4 linked regions of the Homo sapiens genome follow. The protein of the gene in region 2 purifies or fractionates together with the protein of the main gene of each other region. This does not show direct contact. Each region holds a gene or a part of one and is shown on either strand. Other genes may lie near its edges.

What was found.
Region 1: the proteins of DNAJC5G (region 2) and LTV1 purify together in Homo sapiens (affinity purification with mass spectrometry, with the first as the bait; one large-scale study listed by BioGRID). This does not show direct contact.
Region 3: the proteins of DNAJC5G (region 2) and RAB3GAP2 purify together in Homo sapiens (affinity purification with mass spectrometry, with the first as the bait; one large-scale study listed by BioGRID). This does not show direct contact.
Region 4: the proteins of DNAJC5G (region 2) and RANBP3 purify together in Homo sapiens (affinity purification with mass spectrometry, with the first as the bait; one large-scale study listed by BioGRID). This does not show direct contact.

What each region holds. Positions count from the first base shown.
Region 1 is NC_000006.12:143,849,776-143,854,837, reverse strand, and holds part of LTV1 (protein LTV1 homolog), read right to left. Parts: intron 4,708-5,062; coding exon 4,620-4,707; intron 1-4,619. UniProt on the Homo sapiens protein: Essential for ribosome biogenesis.
Region 2 is NC_000002.12:27,273,551-27,279,141, forward strand, and holds the start of DNAJC5G (dnaJ homolog subfamily C member 5G), read left to right. Parts: upstream 1-1,882; 5' UTR 1,883-2,003; exon of another isoform or gene 2,004-2,267; intron 2,268-2,555; 5' UTR 2,556-2,837; intron 2,838-3,140; exon of another isoform or gene 3,141-3,175; 5' UTR 3,176-3,178; coding exon 3,179-3,291; intron 3,292-4,203; coding exon 4,204-4,465; intron 4,466-4,637; coding exon 4,638-4,782; intron 4,783-5,591.
Region 3 is NC_000001.11:220,261,335-220,266,396, forward strand, and holds part of RAB3GAP2 (rab3 GTPase-activating protein non-catalytic subunit), read right to left. Parts: exon of another isoform or gene 4,845-5,062; intron 1-4,844. UniProt on the Homo sapiens protein: Regulatory subunit of the Rab3 GTPase-activating (Rab3GAP) complex composed of RAB3GAP1 and RAB3GAP2, which has GTPase-activating protein (GAP) activity towards various Rab3 subfamily members (RAB3A, RAB3B, RAB3C and RAB3D), RAB5A and RAB43, and guanine nucleotide exchange factor (GEF) activity towards RAB18.
Region 4 is NC_000019.10:5,974,400-5,980,001, forward strand, and holds the start of RANBP3 (ran-binding protein 3), read right to left. Parts: upstream 3,742-5,602; 5' UTR 3,684-3,741; coding exon 3,662-3,683; exon of another isoform or gene 1,982-3,661; intron 33-1,981; exon of another isoform or gene 1-32. UniProt on the Homo sapiens protein: Acts as a cofactor for XPO1/CRM1-mediated nuclear export, perhaps as export complex scaffolding protein. Bound to XPO1/CRM1, stabilizes the XPO1/CRM1-cargo interaction. In the absence of Ran-bound GTP prevents binding of XPO1/CRM1 to the nuclear pore complex.

The sequences.
Region 1 (5,062 bases), on a different chromosome or scaffold from region 2:
CAAAAGAATGGCAATCATAACAAACAGTCTCTCAGACCACACTGCAATCAAATTAGAACTCAGGTTTAAGAAATCCACTCAAAAATGCACAACTACTTGGAAACTGAACAACCTGCTCCTGAATGCCTACGGGGTAAATAACAAAAATAAGGTAGAAATAAATAAGTTCTTCGAAACCAATGAGAAAAAAGACACAACATACCAGAATCTCTGGGACACAGCTAAAGCAGTGTTTAAGGGGAAATTTATAGCACTAAATTCCCACAGGAGAAAGCAGGAAAGATCTAAAATCGACACCCTAACATCACAATTAAAAGAAGTAGAGAAACAAGAGCAAACAAATTCAAAACCTAGAAGACAAGACATAACTAAAACACAGCAGAACTGAAGGAGATAGAGACACGAAAACCCTTCAAAAAAACCAATGAATCCAGGAGCTAGTTTTTTGAAAAGATTAACAAAATAGATAGACTGCTAGCCAGACTAATAAAGAAGAAAAGAGAGAAGAATCAAATAGACACAATAAAAATTGATAAAGGGGATATCACCACCGATCCCACAGAAATACAAATTACCATCAGAGAATACTATAAACACCTCTATGAAAATAAACTAGAAAATCTAGAAGAAATGGATAAATTCCTGGACACATACACCCTCCCAAGGCTAAATCAGGAGGAAGTGGAATCCCTGAATAGACCAATAACATGTTCTGAAATAGAGGCAGCAATAGCCTACCAACCAAAAGAGAAGCCCAGGACCAGACAGATTCACAGCCAAATTCTACCAGAGGTACAGAGAGGAGCTGATACCACTCCTTCTGAAACTATTCCAAACAATAGAAAAAGAGGGACTCCTCTCTAACTCATTTTATGAGGCCAGCATCATCCTGATACCAAAACCTGGCAGAGACACAACAAAAAAAGAAAATTTCAGGCCAATATCCCTGATGAACATCAATGCGAAAATCGTCAATAAAAAACTGGCAAAACAAATCCAGCAGCACATCAAAAAGCTTATTCACCACAATCAAGTTGGCTTCATCCCTGGGATGCAAGGCTGGTTCAACGTAATCCATTACATAAACAGAACCAATGACAAAAACCACATGATTATCTCAATAGATGCAGAAAAGGCCTTTGATAAAATTCAACACCCCTTCATGCTAAAAACTCTCAATAAACTAGGTATTGATGGAACATATCTCAAAATAATAAGAGCTATTTATGACAAACCCTCAGCCAATATCATACTGAATGGGCAAAAGCTGGAAGCATTCCCTTTGAAAACCGGCACAAGACAAGGATGCCCTCTCTCACCAATCCTATTCAACACAGTATTGGAAGTTCTGGCCAGGGCAATCAGGCAAGAGAAAGAAATAAAGCGTATTCCAATAGGAAGAGAGGAAGTCAAATTGTCTCTGTTTGCAGATTAACATCACTGTCTATTTAGAAAACCCCATCATCTCAGCCCAAAATCTCCTTAAGCTGATAAGCAACTTCAGCAAAGTCTCAGGATACAAAATCAATGTGCAAAAATCACAAGCATTCCTATATACCAATAATAGACAAACAGAGAGCCAAATTGTGAGGGAACTCCCATTCACAATTGCTACAAAGAGAATAAAATACCTAGGAATCCAACTTACAAGGGATGTGAAGGACCTCTTCAAGGAGAACTACAAACCACTGCTCAAAGAAATCAGAGGGGACACAAACAAATGGAAAAACATTCCATGCTCATGGATAGGAAGAATCAATATCATAAAAATGGCCATACTGCCCAAAGTAATTTACAAGATAATCCTAAGCAGAAAGAACAAAGCTGGAGGCATCACACTACCTGACTTCAAACTATACTACATGGCTACAGTAATCAAAACAGCATGGTACTGGTACCAAAACAGATATATAGACCAATGGAACAAAACAGAGGCCTCAGAAATAACACCACACATCTACAGCCATCTGATCTTTGACAATCCTAACAAAAACAAGCAATGGGGAAAGGATTCCGTATTTAATAAATGGCATTGGGAAAACTGGCTAGCCATATGCAGAAAACTGAAATTGGACCCCTTCTTTACACCTTATACAAAAATTAACTCAAGATGGATTAAAGACTTCAACGTAAGACCTAAAACCATAAAAACTCTAGAAGAAAACCTAAGCAATACCATTCAGGATATAGGCATGGGCAAAGACTTCTTGACTAAAACATCAAAAGCAATGTCAACAAAAGCCAAAATTGACAAATGGGATCTAATTAAATTAAAGAGCTTCTGCAGAGCAAAAGAAACTATCATCAGAGTCAACAGGCAACCCACACAATGGGAGAAAATTTTTGCAATCAATCCATCTGACAAAGGGCTAATATCCAGAATCTACAAAGAACTTAAATTTACAAGAAAAAAACAAACAACCCCATTGAAAAGTGGGCAAAAGATAGGAACAGATATTTCTCAAATGAAGACATTTATGCAGCCAACAAACATGAAAAAAAGCTCATCATCACTGGTCATTATAGAAATGCAAATTAAAACCACAATGAGAAACTATCTCACGCCAGTTAGAATGGCAATCATTAAAAAGTCAGGAAACAACAGATTCTGGAGAGGATGTGGAGAAATAGGAACGCTTTTATGTTGTTGTTGGGAGTGTAAATTAGTTCAACCATTGTGGAAGACAGTGTGGCGATTCCTCAAGGATCTAGAACCAGAAATACCATTTGACCCAGCAATCCCATTACTGGGTACATACCCAAAGGATAATAAATCATTCTACTATAAAGACACATGCACACGTAGGTTTATTGTAGCACTGTTCACAATAGCAAAGACTTGGAACCAACTTAAATGCCCATCAATGACAGACTGGATAAAGAAAATGTGGCACATATACACCATGGAATACTATGCAGCCATAAAAAAGGACACGTTCATGTCCTCTGCAGGGACATGGATGAAGCTGGAAACCATCACTCTCAGCAAACTAACACAGGAACAGAAAACCAAACACCGCATGTTCTCACTCATAAGTGGGAGTTGAACAATGAGAACATATGGACACAGGGAGGGGAACATCACACACTGGGGCCTGTTGGGGGATGGGGGCCTAGGGGAGGGATAGCATTAGGAGAAATGCCTAATGTAGATGATGGGTTGATGGGTGCAGCAAACCACCATGACGTGTATACCTACATAACAAACCTGCACATTCTGCATATATATCCCAGGACTTAAAGTATAATTTAAAAAAAAAAATGAAAAAAGAAATGATGCTTCTCCTTTTAATATCCACTGGTGAAAATAATGTTCCATTAAACATCTATAATGTTTAACTTTGTCTAGCATAATTCAAAGCTTTTGTCTGCAAGAAGAAACTGGCCTTTAAATTCACCTGTTAAAAATAACTCGAACAATTTTTAGACTGTTATACTTTCAGTATTTTCTGACTTTGCGATTTTAATAAATACCTACCTGTTTCTTCAGATATGTTCTTCCATCTATAAATATACTAGGCTGACTCTGGGCACACTGCTTAGGACTTAGCCCTGCTCCACAAGGAGCAGAAAATGAAAACAAAAAACTCAAGTTCATGAAAAACTTTCAACTCCAAATTTATCATCTGACATGGCCTCCAACACCCTCTGCTACATGGCCATTACTTAACCCTCCAGCCTCATTTCTTTTTAATCCATACCCTTCCTTCTGGGCAGGCTAAAATGTGTATAGTTACCTATATTCACGTTCTCTTGCCTTAGGACATACAGTCCTCTGTCTGGAACATCCTCTGGTCCCCACCCCTCCCCCTCCTTCTTCCACCTACCTAACTTTTACTTAAGAAACAAACTAGATATCACCTTCTTTAGAAAGCCTTGCCCAACCCTGTGATGCTGGGTTTGGTGCTACTCACCCCACTATTAATATCCATCTATACTGTAATTTATCATTTATTGTTTATTTTTCCCAAATGAGGTAAATTCTTGGGTCAGAGACTATGCTTTATTCTGTTTTAACCCAAGGCCCTGCCACACAGACAGTGGCAACTCAAAAATCTGTACAATAAATTAATTAATGAATGCCACAGGACAGGTGTTAGTTAATAATTAAGGCAACTTGGGAGAAAATACCAACACCACTTCTGTAGACTTTTGTGTTTGTTCTGAAATACAGTGTTGGTACTACAAATTAAAAATAAAAAATTTCCCCCAATATATGTGTAGATGGCAAAATGAACTTCCATAAAAATACCTGTATGCTCTGGGGAGAAATTCTGAAAAACAGATTATTTTTCAAAATTACACTACAAGTAATGAATAATTAATACCACTATCTTTGCAAGAGGTTATGTGAAGGTTACAATTCCCCTAACTAGATTACCAAGAATAGTTTCCCCACTTTCCTCTCCAAACAGGAACTCAAAAGATATAAAGATTTGATGGTAGGAATACAAAAATACAAAGATCACATTCATCCCTTCCTAATAATCCCTGATCTGAATTCCAGACATATCTCAATTGTTTCAATACTTTACTGGGGATAGAAAAATCCTACATCATTTCTTTATGTTTTGCAAAATACATTTATCCATATGAAAAGATAAAGCAATTAAAAATACCTGAAACTGGAGCTGCTTTATTTAACAATCCAACATCTTCCTCAAACTCTGAAGCAAACACTGATGAAGGCAACTTAATTCCAGTGCTCTTGAAAAAGAAATTGCACAATGGTTAGGTTTATTTGGAAATTCTTCTTAACTAGTGTACCGGGTTGAAGTCCCCCCCAAATCAATGTCCATCCAGAACCTTAGACTGACCATATTTGAAATAGGGTCCTCTCAACTATAATAAGATGAGGTCTTACTGGACCATGGTCCTATAACGAGACCACATGAAGACAGAGACTCACAGGGGAGAATGCCATGTGCAGATGACAGCAGACTGGAGTGAGGCCTCTATAAGGCAAGGAATTCCAAGGAATGATCACCGGTAACCTTCGGAAGTTAGGAATGAGCCATTCAACAGCCTCTCCCTCTAAGCCCCCAAGAAAAAAACCAAACCT
Region 2 (5,591 bases):
CAAACCACCATAAAAAAATTATCAGCTTCAGCTTCTTTTTAAGTGAGTGACCTCTAAACTCATCTGACCCAGAGACTATGGACCAGGTGGGTAATGCAAAGGTCTTCATCCCCTCTCCCTGCACTGACCACAGGCCTACAGAAATAAATTCATTAATTCAGCAGTCATCACGTCTGCTACAGATGGACTCCTTAGTTCGTTTGCTTAGATGGTTCTTGAGGTGGAATACTGATTTACAAGTGCACCTCTAATGCCTTCTGCTCTCTCTACCCAGTGCTGGGGAAGAAATGAGCTGGTTTGTTCTGCTAGTTCTGTCCTCCCATGAGTCATGAAAGCTTGGGGGTTAAAGAAATTTGGCATGAGACAAACCACCAAAAAACATTATCAGCTTCAGCTTCTTTTTTGGTGAGTGACCTTCGAAGGAGCTGGCGCAATGGGGGTTGGCGCAATGGCTTCAAGGAGGCTGGCACAATGGCTCACGCCTTCAAGGGGGCTGGCGCAATGGCTCACGCCTGTAATCCCAGCACTTTTGGAGGCTGAGGCGGGTAGATCACTGAGGTCAGGAGTTCGAAACCAGCCTGGCCAACATGGTGAAACCCCGTCTCTACTAAAAATACAAAAAAAATTAGCCAGGCGTGGTGGCAGGCACCTGTAATCCCAGCTACTTGGAAGGCTGAAGCAGGAGAATCACTTGAACCCGGAAGGCAGAGGTTCCAGTGAGCAGACATTGTGCCACTGCACTCCAGCCTGTGTGACAGAGTGAGACTCCACCTCAAAACACAACAAAACAAACAAAAAAAACCTACAAGGTGAGGAAAATGTGCACAAATAACTGTAATAAAAGGAAGAGAGTGATAAAAGCTACAAAAAGGTTAACAGATAAGCATTTTCCAAGTAACAAAGCTTTTTCTACTACATGTTACAGGAGCCATTGAGTGCTCTTGCAAAGAAAACCAGCACTACAAAGTAGTAAATTATAAGTGATGCAAACACTACCTCCTGTAGAAACTCACAGGAAGGGAAGCCAGGTAGAGGCATGCTCCCATGCCAGCAGGTGGGGATACAAATCCTCCTTCTGCTACCTTTCCAGAAGAAAGTTAGCAATAGAGATCAAGAGCGTAAAAAAAAAAGAAAAGAAAAAAGAAAAAAAAAATCATTTCGACCCAATAATTCCACTTCTAAGAATGTATCCTTAGGAAAAAAAATTAGACATTTGTTCAAGGATTTCTGTTGAATTTTCCTTATAAGGTTATTATATTATCAAATAGAAACAACTGAAACAGCCAAGTTGGGTTACATTATGGGACATGCTCATGATGGCATCATATTTAAGTGACGTTTTTGAAGCACGGTAGTGACTTTTGGAAAAGGCTCAATACATCATTTTAATGAGACGTGCAAACTCATCATTACGATATACTAGGAGAAATGCTTTGACAGACGAAGTGGGAACAACTGGGAGAGTGAATGATGGAGTGTCAGGAACAGGGGCATATGAGTTGGGTCTTCCAGGTTGTGGAGGTGTTTCCGGGTGGAAGAGAAGGAGGGACCAAGCGGAGAGCCCTAAGTCCTGAAGACAACTGGGAAGGTAACACACCTCTTAAGAAGGGCATGCAGCAGCCATACCTCTCATCCGCCACGGTCAGCAAACCCATTGTGTTTCCTGGAGTGAGTTGGGCCATCAAGATGGGTGGTGCCCTCCTGCTGGGGAAGAGGGGCTCGGTGGGAATCCCTGCCCCAAGGCCTGGCAGCAACGCTCCTACGCTGCCTTGGGCCGCAGGCCTGCTAAGCCCTCCGCTCTCGCTTCCCTGCGCGCGAAATAAGTCCCAGGGCCAATGTGGCCTCCCCACCCAGTGCTTCCGGGGGCGCCAAAAAACGACCTGCCCAGACCCTCAGCGTCGACGCTGCGCACAAGCGCAGTCAACTGCTGGACCCGGCCGGTGTGAAGTTTCACACCCAAAAGGATGAAGGGCACCCACCTGGCTTAAGAGAACGACTCCCAGGTAAAGGGCCAGACCCAGGTGAGGAGTCGGCACAGGGCCAGAGGTGCCCTGCACACTCAGAGCTCTCCCTTTGAGCTCCTTGCCTTGCTCGGTTCTCCTGGGCCGCAGGCGTCTACCCTGCTCTCTGGGGTTCCGCTGCCTTTTCCTTGCCAGGTCTTTCCCACAGCAACGCCTTTTCTCTTCCTTCTCCAGCCTCTGAGTCCTCTTCCTCCTCTCCCCACTGTCCCACCTCTGAGGGACAGAAGTGGGGTGGTTTGAGAGCAGGAGACTGGAGGGAAGAAGCAAGTCCAGGCCTAGCTGCAAGCACTCCCCACCCCCGCCCCCGCCCCCGCCCCCGCCCCCGCCAGGCTCTAGGACACTTGACTTCTGTTAGGCCTCACACGGTTTGGTCTGAAGTGTTTCTCTCTTAATAGCTGTGGATCGGCGAGGCTCAATGGCTCACGCCTGTAATCTCAGGACTTTGGGAGGCCGAGGTGGGTGGATCACCTGAGGTCAGGAGTTCAAGAACAGCCTGACCAACATGGTGAAACTCTGTCTCTACTAAAAACACAGAAAATTAGCCGGGCGTGGTGGCGTGCACCTGTAATCTCAGCTACTCGGGAGGCTGAGGCAGGAAAATCGCTTGCACCCAGGAGGTGGAGGTTGCAGTGAGCCGAGATCGCGCCATTACACTTCAGCCTGGGCAACAAGAGCAAAAAACTCCGTCAAAAAAAAAAAAAAGAAGAAGAAGTTGTGGAGCTGTCTGATTCCTGATCCTGTCCGTTCAGGCTGGGGCCGCCCTGGTCTTTCAAACCCAGCAGTGAGCTTGGACAGACCCAGAGGTGTTTACTCCAGGTAATAGGAGCTCTAGACAAAATCAGGCTCTTTTCCTGGCTTAGACCTCTCCCTGCTTACAACACCTCTAGGATGTGGGATATCTAGAGGTCTGTGTAGCTGGAGGATGCTGGGAAATGTGAGGAGAAGATGTTTCCTCCTTAAAATTGGAATCTTTCTGATCACCTGAATTCTCCTGCTAGCCACAAATCCCACTCACTCTTATCTTATCCTTGTCCTTCTGTCATCGTTTACCTGCCTAATCCCTGAAGGTAGTGAGTTTCCTGTCACTGGAAGTGCACTTCTCGGTACCCTTACTTGTAGAAGTTCTCACAGATGCTGCTTCTCCTCTGGCTCAGATCATGTCTACTGTGAAGGAAGCAGCACACCGGCTGTCCAAAAGTGAGATGAGCCTCTATGCAGTGCTGGATCTTAAGAAGGGCGCCTCACCTGAAGACTTCAAAAAATCCTACAGGTTCAGACCTCAGCCCTTTATTGATCCTTGGAATTTCCCCCTTAAACCTTTTTCTTTCTGTATCTCTTTTGCTATCTGACTCTTTTTTTTTTTTTTTTTTTTTGAGAGGAAGTCTCGTCCTGTCACAGAGCAGAGACAGAGACTATTGAGAGTGCAGTGGCACGATCTTGGCTTACTGCAACCTCTGCCTCCCAGGTTCAAGCAATTCTCTCACCTCAGCCTCCTGAGAAGCTGGGACTACAGGCGTGCACCACCACGCCTGGCTAATTTTTGTATTTTTAGTAGAGACAGGGTTTCGCCATGTTGGCCAGGCTGGTCTCAAACTCCTGACCTCAGGTGATCTACCTGCCTCGGCCTCCCAAAGTGCTGGGATTACAGGTGTGAACCACTGTGCCTGGCCTACGACCCGTTTGTTTGTTTGTTTGTTTGTTTGTTTGTTTTGAGACAGTCTCGCTCTGTTGCCCAAGCTGTAGTGCAGTGGTGCAGTCTCGGCTCACTGCAACCTCCACCTTCCGGGTTGAAGTGATTCTCCTGCCTCAGCCTCCCGAGTAGCTGGGATTACAGGTGCCTGCCACTATGCCCAGCTAATCTTTTGTATTTTTGGTAGAGACAGGGTTTCACCATGTTGGCCAAGCTGGTCTCAAACTCCTGACCTCATGATCCGCCCACCTTGGCCTCCCAAAGCGCTGGGATTACAGGTGTGAGCCAGTGCTCCCAGCCCTATGACCCATTTTTAAGTTCCAACAAGCCCTCACTTTGGGGCCAAATGGCACCATCACCCTCTTCATTATAGTATGGGAAGGAGTTTAGACCTTGGATGCTTGCCTCCATCCTTTGTACCACATCTCATGCATTCCTTCTGCACTCTCTAGAGACTAATCCATGTCATTCATCGTAAGTCTCCTTCCCCAGCCATTCCGCATTGCTTCCCCACCCTCCTTTTGAGTATCACCTGGGTAGGAAACTGGCCTTGCGGTATCATCCCGACAAGAATCCAGGGAATGCTCAAGCAGCAGAAATATTCAAAGAGATCAACGCAGCTCATGCCATACTGAGCGACTCTAAGAAGCGGAAAATTTACGACCAGCATGGCTCATTGGGAATATATCTGTATGATCACTTTGGTGAAGAAGGCGTCAGATACTATTTTATTCTGAATAGTTGTTGGTTCAAGGTACACAATTCTCCAGGTCCTTTAAGAATAAGGAAAGAAGGGTGACCTTCCTTTCCTTATGACAAATGCTTCTGTTGTCTCATTTTCTGGGTGCCAGGAGGATTGAGGGAGGGAAGCTTGAGCAGTCATATAGAAAACTGCTGGACTGAGGCCATTCTCGCCTACCTTTTAGACACTTGTCATCCTGTGTACTCTGCTCACTTGTTGCTGTTTCTGTTGTTGCTGCTGTTTTTGCTGTGGAGCACTTAAACCACCACCTGAGCAGGATAGTGGGAGAAAATATCAGCAGAATGTCCAGAGTCAGCCTCCAAGGTCAGGTGAGAACTGCAAGCAGGGACTGTGAGGTAAGAAATGTCTGGATTGGGAATGAAAGAAATGATTGGGGTTGGGCACAATGGCTCATGCCTGTAATCCCAGCACTTTGGGAGGGTGAGGCGGGTGGATCACTTGAGGTCAGGAGTTGGAGACAAGCCTGGCCAACATGGTAAAACCCTGTCTCTACTAAAAATACAAAAATTAGCTGGGCATGGTGGCACCCACCTGTAGTCCCAGCTACTTGGGAGGCTGAGGAGGCAGAAGAATCGCTTGAACCCGGAAGGCAGAGGTTGCAGTGAGCTGAGATCGCGCCACTGCACTCCAGCCTGGGAGACAGAGCAAGACTCCATCTCAAAAAAAAAAAAAAAAAAAAAAAAAGAAAAGAAAAGAAAGAGGCTGGGCATGGTGGCTCAAACCTGTAATCCCAGCACTTTGGGAGGCCGAGGCGGGCGGATCACGAGGTCAGGAGTTTGAGACCAGCCTGACCAACATGGTGAAACCCTGTCTCTACTAAAAATACAAAAATTAGCCAGGTGTGGTGGCGGGCGCCTGTAACCCCAGCTACTTAGGAGGCTGAGGCAGGAGAATTGCTTGAACCCGGGAGACGGAAGTTTCCGTGAGCCAAGATCATGCCACTGCACTCCAGCTTGGGCAACAGAGTGAGACTCCATCTCAAAAAAAAAAAAAAAAAAGAAAGAAAGAAATGGTTGAGGGTGAGAAAGACCTGTGAAAATGGCAGGTTAATCCCTAAATATGACAATTTCAAGTCTTCAAGTCTGGCACTGGGACAAAGTGAAGAAAAAAAAAAGAT
Region 3 (5,062 bases), on a different chromosome or scaffold from region 2:
GCATAGTACTCATTCAAAAATACTTGTCATACTTCCAGGACTGTCACTGTGTATACTATAAAATAACCTCTTATGAAAACCATGCTAAGGAAAAGATAATCTCCTCTTTTGGAATACTGCAATAGCCTCCTAACTGGTCACTCCACTTCCACTTTACCCATCACTCCCATCCATTCTTCTCTTTGCTGACAAAGAAATGTCTCTAAAATATTTGTCTGGCTATCCTATTTCTCAGCTCAAATTCTAATAGTCTCAAACTCCACTGCCATTGCTATCACCTTAGTTCTGCCTTTATGGGCTCTAACTTGGACTTCTACAACTATCTATCTAATGGTCACCTGCCTCTAGCTTTGAACTGCCCAATCTATTCTCTTTACAGCTACCAAATATATCTGTTTAGAACTCAAATCTTAAAATATTTTTGCTACACTTTTACTTAAAACCATCAATGGCTACCCTCTGCCCATAGCAGAGATTCTTAGTATGCTGTAAATGGGTTGCAGGTGAGCCAAGATATTGATCCTTTTAGCAGTAAAAGCAGTCAGGTAGGGCCTGGAACTACTGGAACTTATGTCACTTTCCATCATAAGCAGCTTTGTCGCGTTTTTAAATAATCTATTTATTATTAATCTAATTGATTGACATTTTGTATTTTGGTTAAAAAAAACACACAGGCCAGGCGCGGTGGCTCACACCTGTAATCCCAGCACTTTGGGAGGCCAAGGCGGGCAGATCACGAGGTCAGGAGATCGAGACCATCCTGGCTAACACAGTGAAACCCCATCTCTACTAAAAATACAAAAAAAAAAAAAAAAAATTAGCCAGGCATGGTGGCAGGCACCTGTAGTCCCAGCTACTCGAGAGGCTGAGGGAGGAGAATGGTGTGAACCCGGGAGGTGGAGCTTGCAGTAAGCCAAGATGGCACCACTGCACTCCAGCCTGGGCGACAGAGCAAGACTCTGTCTCAAGAAAAAACAAACAAACAAACAAACAAACAAAAAAACATAAAATTTATCAACTTAACCATTTCTAAGTGGACAGTTCAGTAGTGTTAAGTGTACTCACACTGTTGTGAAAAAAAAAGATCTCCAGAACTTCATCTTGCAAATCTGAAACTCTGTATCATTAAACAATTCCCGTTCTCCCTTTCCTCAGCCTCTGGTAACCGCCATTCTATTTTTTGTTTCTATAAATGACTACTTTAGCTTCCTCATGTAAGTGGAATCATATAGTAGTTGTCTTTTTGTGACTGGAATATTTCACTTAGCATAATTTAACAAGGTTCATTCATGTTATAGCATGTGACATTTCTTTGATTTTAATGGCTAAACAGTATTCCATTGTGTGTATAATACCACATTTTGTTTATCCATTCATCCATCGATGGGCATTTGGGTTGTTTCCACCTCTTGGCTACTGTGAACTGTCTATGAACATGGGTGTGCAAACATCTCTTCAAGACCCTGCTTTCAATTCTGCTGTATATACACCTTGAAGTGATATTGCTGGATCATATAATTTTTTTAAAATTTTTTGAGGAACTCTTATTTTTTCCTTAATGGCTGTACCATCTTATCATCCCACCAACAATGCACAAAAGTTTATAATTCTCCACATCCTCACCATATCCTGATACTTTTTTTTTTTTATAGTAGCCATTTCTAATAGGTGTAACATTTCATTATGCTTTGGTTTGCATCACTCTGATGATTAGTGATGTTAAGCATCTTTTCATGTTCTTTTTGGTCATCTGTATATCATCCTTGAAGAAATGTCTACTTAAGTCCTTTGCTCATTTTAAATAGGGTTGATTTTTTGTTGTTGTTATTGAGTTGCAGGAATTCTTTATATATTCTGGATATTAATCCCATATCAGATACATGATTTGCAAATATTTTCTCCCATTTTGAAAACTGCCTTTTCACACTGTTGATTGTGTCCTTTGATGCACAAAGTTTTTAAGCTTAGTGTAGCCCCATTTGTCCACTTTTGCTTCTGCTGCCTATGCTTTTGGTGTCATATCCAAAAGCATGCAAGTCCAATGTCATGAAGCTTTTCTCCTATGTTTTATTCTAAAGTTTTACAGTGTTAGGTGCTGCATTTAGGTCTTTAATCTATTTAATTTTTGTATATGGTATAAGATAAGGATTCAATTTCATTCTTTTGCATATGGATAGCCATTTCCTCTAACATCATATATTCAAGAAGCTGTCTTTTCCCCCAAAGAATGCTCTTGGCACACTTGCTGAAGATCATCTTGACCATGTATGTGAGGGTTTACTTATCAGCTATCTATTCCATTCCATTGGTTTGTTTGTCTTTATGCCAGTATCATACAGTTTGGGTTATTACAGCTTTGCAATATGCTTTGAAATCAGAAAGTGTGAATCTTCTAACTTGTTTCTTCTTTTCCAAAATTGTTTTAGCTGTTTGGGGTCCATATCTCATTTTTCTTATGTACGCTATTATGCCAACAAAAAAAAGAAAAGACAAGACTGGGAATCACTGAGTCTTACAGGAGAATGACCTTCAAATTTTTTGTTCATATATGCCCCAAAAGAATTTTTTAGTATGTATCTCTTGCAAAAAATATGTAATTTCTGTTATACTATAAACATGTACATTTAAACATAAAACTATTATTACTTTTTAAAACTTAGTGGATTCTAAACACTATAGGGAAATGATACCCACCGACATCCATTAAAAAAAAATGCTGACCTTCTCAACAGTTTTTACAAGTCCTTTATTCTCCTTGAATACTTATTTCTATTCTACTTCCTCCACAGAATGCTATTCTAATAAACACAGATTTTTATTATTATCAGTACAAAACTCTCTCTGCAAAAAAGGATATGAATTAAGAAAACATTTTCCTGTGATAAGACTCTTAAGTATTAACATTTTTCTTCTTGCTTGAGTTATTACAATTATTTTATGTAAATAAGTGAGGAAAACAACATAAATATATCATAAATCTTGATAATTAAACAAAAAGTAAAATTTGGAAAACTAATAATAAAACGAATGGAGGAATTTACAACACTTTGATTAAAGGGGAGGTTTTTTTTACACCTTGAAGCAACTTACTATAATAAGACTACAAACGTGTCAGAGATAAAGTGGGAGAAGGCAGGGTGAGAAAGTAGGCACTTTCACAGGTACATGTGGAAAATGATTTACTTAAAATCATCTGTTCCCAAGCAACCTTTTATAAATTTCCATGATCCCAAGGTACTCTTACTTCAATCTAAAGACCCTGCTACTGAATAAAATCTAAACTCCTTCACCAACCTCTTCAATTTCACCTCTGAACACATCCCACCCTCCCACCACAATTTACTATTTGCAGCTTTCTGAATCCCATACTGTTTCACATCTGTTGTCTATTTTCTCTCCATCTGATGGACATCTTTAAACTATTAATGTGTAAATATCACCTCCTATATGAAGACTTTCTGGGTTTCCTGCATAGACTAGACCAACACTCCTTCATTCTCTCCCATCATGTGCCATATCATAGCATAACACCTCTAACAATCGTTTCACATACGTGTCTTCTTTTATTAGCTGAAAATTGCTTGAGGGACTTATTTTATTTATCTTTAAACTCATTTTGTGCTTAGAACATAGTAGATGCTCAATAAATACTACCTGAATGAAGAAACTGAAGAACACTCAAATCTCAATTTCCTCACTGGTAAAATTTTATCTGTATGATCCTCTTCCAATTTTAAAGAAACCCAGTAACTCTATATATTTTCTGAAATCTCTATAAATGTTCTATTTTCAGATTATTTTCTCTCCTAGTATGATCTCAAACTAGAGAAAATATTTTACTACATATAAAAAATAGAGTATTTTATATCATTTGTGATAGCCCATTATGCAAAGTGATTCTATGATTTTAGGTTATCCTAAATAAAGCACATTTTTCTCAGAGATTGCTTAAAAACATGAATTGATTATTTCAACATAATTCCCTACATGCTTTATATTCTGGTTGGTAAAAGAGGCAAGAAGGAAAACTATTCCACATTTTTAGTATGTCAATAAGAAATTATTTTACTATTAGGTAAATCAAGAAATCCACAATATTATAATACCCAAATTATCTCCAACTATTCTGGCTCTCCCTCTCTATTCATGTATTTATTTATTTATATATTTATTTATATTTTTGCCCAACCCAACTGTAAATTTCAGAAAGTTCTGGTCTAGGCATTGGAAATTATGTCACTATAGGTTAAATGGGGACCCATAAAGTGGGGACCTATACTCCACCCATCCCTGCAACTTCAAAGTAATAAACCAGGGAGAGTGGCTCATGCCTATAATTCTAGCACTTTGAGAGTCCAGGTGGGAGGATCACTTAAGCCCAGGAGTTCAAGACCTGCTTGGGCAACACAGCAAGACCCTATCTCAACAAAAACCAAAAAAATTATCTGGGCATGGTGCTGCATACTTGTAGTCCTAGCAACACAGGAGACTGAGGTGGGAGGATCCCTTGAATCCAGGAGTTTAAGGCTGCAGTGAGCTATGATCATGCCACTGCACTCTGGCCTGGGTGACAGAGTGAGGCCCTGTCTCTAAAAAACAAAAACAAAACAAACAAAAAAGCCACAAAGCAGTAAGACCAGACTTCATGTCTTAAGTAGATAGTATTTACTTTATAAAAACAAAATTTAACAGTTGTCATTAATGTAAACATTGGGAAAGGGTAGGGTTCAGCATCTTTTAAAGCTACAGAGGACAGTCTTCTTTTGTAATTAAATATACAAAGTAACATAAAGTCATACTTTGATAATTCAAATATAGAAGAGAGTGGTATCACTATATCTCTAGCAGCTGTCCACAGTAAAATAAAAGTACTTTTTTTTCTGTACAAATATCTTTATTTTCCTACTTAAAAAGAATCACGTACTCAGTCCAACAGCTTTACCAGGCTTGGCCAACCCAATAAGTTACACACTCACTCAGGTACTTGGAAGGTTATTGGACAGCTCCTTAACCGATCGAGTCAGCACAAAGTGGTCACTTTCCCCATAGCCAGACTCTGGAT
Region 4 (5,602 bases), on a different chromosome or scaffold from region 2:
ATCCTGATGTCAGCCTACAATGCAGCATAACCCTAGAGACAGGATGAGTAATGAGTCTGGGAGGTATCAATGGGGAAATGCCAAGCAGGGGAGACTTATCCCTGGATGCAAGGGTGAAACATGCACACACACTGTCTGAGAGGAAAAGCACTCAGGTGGACTTTAAAAGTCCCAGACCACAGGAAGGGCTGTGAGAGTTGCTGTCACCATCCATGAGGCGTTCACCATGGTGACGAGGGCCAACAAGATGCTTTACACAACAGAAAACATTTCCTCGTATACAAGCAGAGGACACCTACCCTCTACTACTCAAACCAGCGGGTCTCAACCCTGCCTGCACATGAGAATCACCTGTGCTGCCACCTGTACAGAGGCCCAGAACCCACCCAACACCAGAGAGAATCGGAATCTGCAGGGCGTGGCGACTGAGCATCTGCGGTTTCAGGAAAGTTCCCCAGGGGGTACTGATGCCCAGCCGGGTGGACAGCCGCTGCTCAGCCTGACACAGAGGTGGGACTGGCCCAGAGAAGAGAGATGGCAAATGGATGGAGGAGGGACTGGGTGTGAGGGTGGAGCAACTTATGATCTCAGTCTGGAAAGGCAGAAGCCAAGAGGGCATTTGACTAGAGCTTAAACAGCAAGAACAAACACGTGACCATGGGGCAGCCCCTAAAGCTTCAAAAGGCACAGGCAAGGAGGCCCCACTTTACACAGTGAATAACAAATTAAACATCCTGGCAGGCTGTACAAGCCAAAACCAGAAATGGAGTGTTCAAGAAACACACAATGACTGATTGAAGGACGGCAGGGATATATGAGGCACAAAGTCCACCAAGATTTGATTTCCTGAGGACAGTTATCCCAGAACTAGCGTCAGGGACAACGTGCTAGGTGAGTGTGGCACTTACTAGGGAAAAAAAGTGAAGTTCAAAACATTCCATTTCTCTCTTTGGCCCTTACCAGTTCAACTATCCCATTTACAACCAATAGCTCATGTGGACAGCATATGCTAGAAACAGTATCCCCTGGAAAAGGGCAAGCCATAATTTCCCCTTTGTGCTCAAATGTATTCCTCACAACAGGGTCCTCACTGGTGAATTCATTCATTCATGCATTCATTCATTCAACCAATATTTCCTGTGTACCTACTCTGTGCCAGGCACCGTTCTAGATGCAAGGGGGCAATCAGTGATCATAACATAAAAATCCCTGACCTCATGGAGCTTACATGGGGCAAACATGCATGTAATATCTAGCATGCCGGATTGTTAAGAGCTATACAGGAAAATCAAGCAGGGTGAACGGAATAGAGAACATGGATTTAATTTGAAATAGGTGGCCAGAGAAGCTCTCATTAATAAAGTAACATATATGAGTAAAAACCAGAAGAAGTGAGCCATGGGGGTATCTGGGGGAAAACTGTTTCAGTTAGAGGAATCAGCAGGAGAAAAGGCTAAAAGCGGGGAGTGTATGCAACATTCAAGGAAAACTGAAAAAGCCAGAGTAGTTAGCACAGAGCAAGGCAGCAGAGAGTGGCGAGAGAGAAGGACAGGGACATATTGGGGCCCACTATGGGCTGAGAAGTTCTCAGATGGGTAAGGGTGGAGGGAACGGGGGCTAAGCATTGACGGTGTTGGTGGGGAGAAGTGGTGGTCCCCCTTTGGGAATAATTTTAAGGTAGAAATGATAGTATTTGCTGTGCAGTATGAGAAAGAGGGAAACCAGGGGTGACTTCAAGGTTTGGGGCCAGAAGAATTCAAAGAATGGACCTGCCTAACTAACTACAATGGGTGAAAGACCATGGGATGGGCAGGTGTAGTGGGGGAGATAAGGATTTTGTTTTGGAAACGCTCTAGACTTACCTATGACACATCCAAATGGAGATGTCGAAATGTGATGCTGGACATGAGTCCTGAGTTCAAGAAGCTATGTGGGCTCAGGATGTAAATACATAAAATATGTCATACTGATTCCCACTTACCCAGTCCCTCTGTAACTAGATCTCATGAGTTGGAATGCTGCAACCCTCCATGGGCTCCTTTATCTTAAAAAAAGAGATGTAGCAGCCGGGTGCGGTGGCTCACGCCTGTAATCCCAGCACTTTGGGAGGCCGAGGCGGGCAGATCACGAGGTCAGGAGATGGAGACCATCCTGGCCAACATGGTGAAACCCCGTCTGTACTAAAAACACAAAAATTAGCTGGGTGTGGTGGTGCGCGCCTGTAATCCCAGCTACTCGGGAGGCTGAGGCAGGAGAATCACCTGAACCCGGGAGGCGGAGATTGCAGTGAGCCGAGATGGCGCCACTGCACTCCAGCCTGGCTACAGAGCTAGACTCCGTCCCAAAAAATAAAATAGAATAAAATGGCCAAGAATCAGGGAGAGAACCTGTGCTGCTGCCTGTACAGATGCCCAGCGCCCGCCCAACACCACACAGAATCAGAATCTGCAGGGACTGAGCACCCGTGGTCTGGCATCTGAAGCCAGGCCATCTTGGTTCACATCCCTGCTCCTTCCCAGCTGTGTGACACGCCTTGGATAAGCGACTTAACCACGTTGACTCAGTCTCCTCATCAAGTGAATGGGGCTAACAGTATCTATACCTCCTACCAGGGAAAACAGTATGTCAAGACTTTGCACCACACCTGGTAACTACCCTAAATGCTCCACAAGACCAAGCACTTCCTATCATCATTCATTCATTACTGCAATTCGGTAGGGAAAACCCTCCAGTCACAGGGAGCACCGAATGGGGGAATCAGAGCCAGACAGGTAGAGAGCTTGCCTGCATTTGTGCAACTAGAAAAGGGGGGGAGCTAAAAATAGGCCTCAGAAGTCTTGAAGCTACAGCGATGGCAACACGACTATGGATGGAAGCAGACATCAGCCTTATGGTGCCTTCTCGGGGGATCTGGAAGTGTAACCTTGTCAAAAACACTCAGGTGGGCTGTCAGCGCTCCACAGAGGAGGGACTCGCACGGTCTCTTGTCTGGAAGTGCAGCAAAAAGGGCCAAAGAGCAGCCAGGGTTTTCGGCGGCCCAGATCCTGCGGCGGGGCCTAAATGAGGGGGAGACGAAGCGCCCCGAAGGATCCGGGGGGAACTGGCGGGAAGTGGGGGCCGAAGTTCGGGGCGGGGACGGGGTGAAAACGGCCTGGGCTTCCTCCGTCCGCGGTGTGCGGCTGGCCCGCGGAGGACGAGGGCCTCACGGGCTTAGGAGATAGGCAGCCAGGCCGGGGAAGGGGAGATGCCGGGTGGCGGAGGACGAGGGGGCGGGGAGGGAGCGTGGCGCGCTCCGGGCCACAACCAGGCCCTAAGGTCTATTTACATCCGTGGCCGAAGCACTGGGGCCGCGCCTCCCGCCCCCTTCAGCCCCGAGCTTGGCTGCGACGCAGAGGGGCCTTAGGGCTGCGATCCCGATGGCCACCCGGCTCCTCTAGCCAGACGGCTGCAGTGGCTGGGGTTGCCGGGAGTGATGGGCCGGGCCGGTGAGCCCGGCCTGAGGGGACGCAATAGGGGGCGGCTGCAAGGCCCGCCACGGCGCTAGCCTGGAGCGGACGAAACCCTTGCACTCTGCGGTGCTCCCCCCAAGGGCTTGTGGCCCCTAGTCCTCCCGCCGCCCGTTCCCCGGCCGCCAGCCGGTCCCCAACGGCGCCTCCCCTACCTTCGTTCGCCAGGTCCGCCATTTTACTTCCTTAAGCCCTCCCACAAGGCCCCGCGCCGGCCCAGGCTCGCCTGCTTTCTGCCAGAAACTCCCGCGCGTGCGCACTTAACAAGCCGACTCCGTGTGAGGCGGCCAGCTCGCGCCTGCGCGCTGAATGCCGCGCGGAGGCGAGCCCCGGATCGCCTGCCCTGCAGAGCAGCCTGCCCTGACGAGCCGCGCTCCTAGCACGCACCTGCGCACGAGCCATCTCCCGCCTCCTTTTCCCGCCGACTGAGAGGGCGGGGAAAGGGCCGGGAAGGGCGCATGCGCAGTGGCAGCGACTAAGGTTTAGTGAGGCGGCACCGCGCGGCCCGAGGCGGGTCTTGAAGCACTCGTTTTCCCACTCGTTTTCCGGGGTTCCCCCGCGGTGGGACAGTGAGCAGTTCAGGGCGCCGCAGCCGAGGCCTTCCTCCAGGTAAATCGCCGGGCCTGCGGGGGCTTCCCACACGCGCGGGCGGGAGACGCGTTGCCTCCTACCTCAGTTTACCCGCCTTAGGAGCCGGTACCTTCGGCAAACGCTTTCCTGAAACCACGGGGGAAGTGGCGAGAGGGCGCGGGGTGCTTGGGATTGGGGGGTAAATCAGAGCTCATCGGCGGGGGCGGGGGTCGTGGTCAGGCTCTAGGAGGGGGCGCAGCCCTGGGACCCAGGTGCTGGCGTTGGGGGCGGGGGGAGCCGGCGCGAGGGACTCGACCCCTCGGAGCTACGAGAATCAACTTCACAAGCTCATGGGAGGGGAACCGCGCGCCTCCAGGTTACCCATCTGTAAAATGGGACCATCAGCCTCACTCACAAGGCTCATGGGAGGGTCCTGGACACCCTGGAGTTGTTCTCTACTCACCTGCTATGAATCTCTCAGCAAATCCTTCGGACTTGGCCTTGCCTCCAAAATACAGCCCAGAGCCACCCATTGTCACCCCCAGGCTGTCACCACCCTAGGCCACATCGTCCGTATCTATCTCATGGAAGACTTGGACAGCGGCCTCTCTGCTATCCTTTGCTGCATTCTTTTGAAGCCCCAGGCTTGGTTCTGCACATGGCCGCAGGCTGAGGAGTCTTTGAAAAATATAATCAGCCAGACGCGGTAGCTCACCCCTGGAATCCCAGCACTGCGGGAGGCCAAGGTGGGAGGATCGCTTGAGCTCAGTTCAAAACCAGCCTAGGCAACAGAGCAAGACCCCATCTCTACAAAAACACAAAAATTACCCGGATGTGGTGGTGCAAGCCTGTGGTCCCAGCTACTTGGGAGGCTGAGGCAGGAGGATCACTTGAGCCCAGGAGGTTGAGGCTGCAGTGAGCTGTGACAGTGCCACTGCCACCATCCTAGGGACACAGCAAGAACCTCCCCCATATATATACACATATATACTTTGTTTTTATCTATATATATACACACAGATATATACATACACGTGTGCATATATATGTGTGTGTGTGTATATATATATATATACACATAGACTGAAAATGGAAATATCAAGGCCACTCAGTGCTTCCAGAGGGCTCTCAGCTGAACTTGGAATATCCTAAACCTTGTATTCAGGTTTATGAAGTCCCCTGAACTTGGCTCCCATGCCCTGCTTTGTTCCCCCTTGCTCATTGCTGTTCAGCCGCGTGGGTCTTTCCATCCTTGGAGCACAAGCTCATTCCAACCTAAGGGTCTTTGCACTTGGTCGTCTCTCTGCCTGGGACCTTGTGTTTCAGGTCTTACCTAGGTTGGAGTCCCAGCTCTGCACCTTTTTGAGTATGATCTAAAAGAGAGCGAGGAGTACTACAATCTGTGGGCCAGATATAGTCTATGAGCTAAAAATGGTTCCTCCCTCCCTCCCCTTGTTCCCTCCCTCCCTTTCCTTCCCTTCCCTTTCTTTTATTTATTTTGGAATCTAACTCTGTTGCCCACGCTG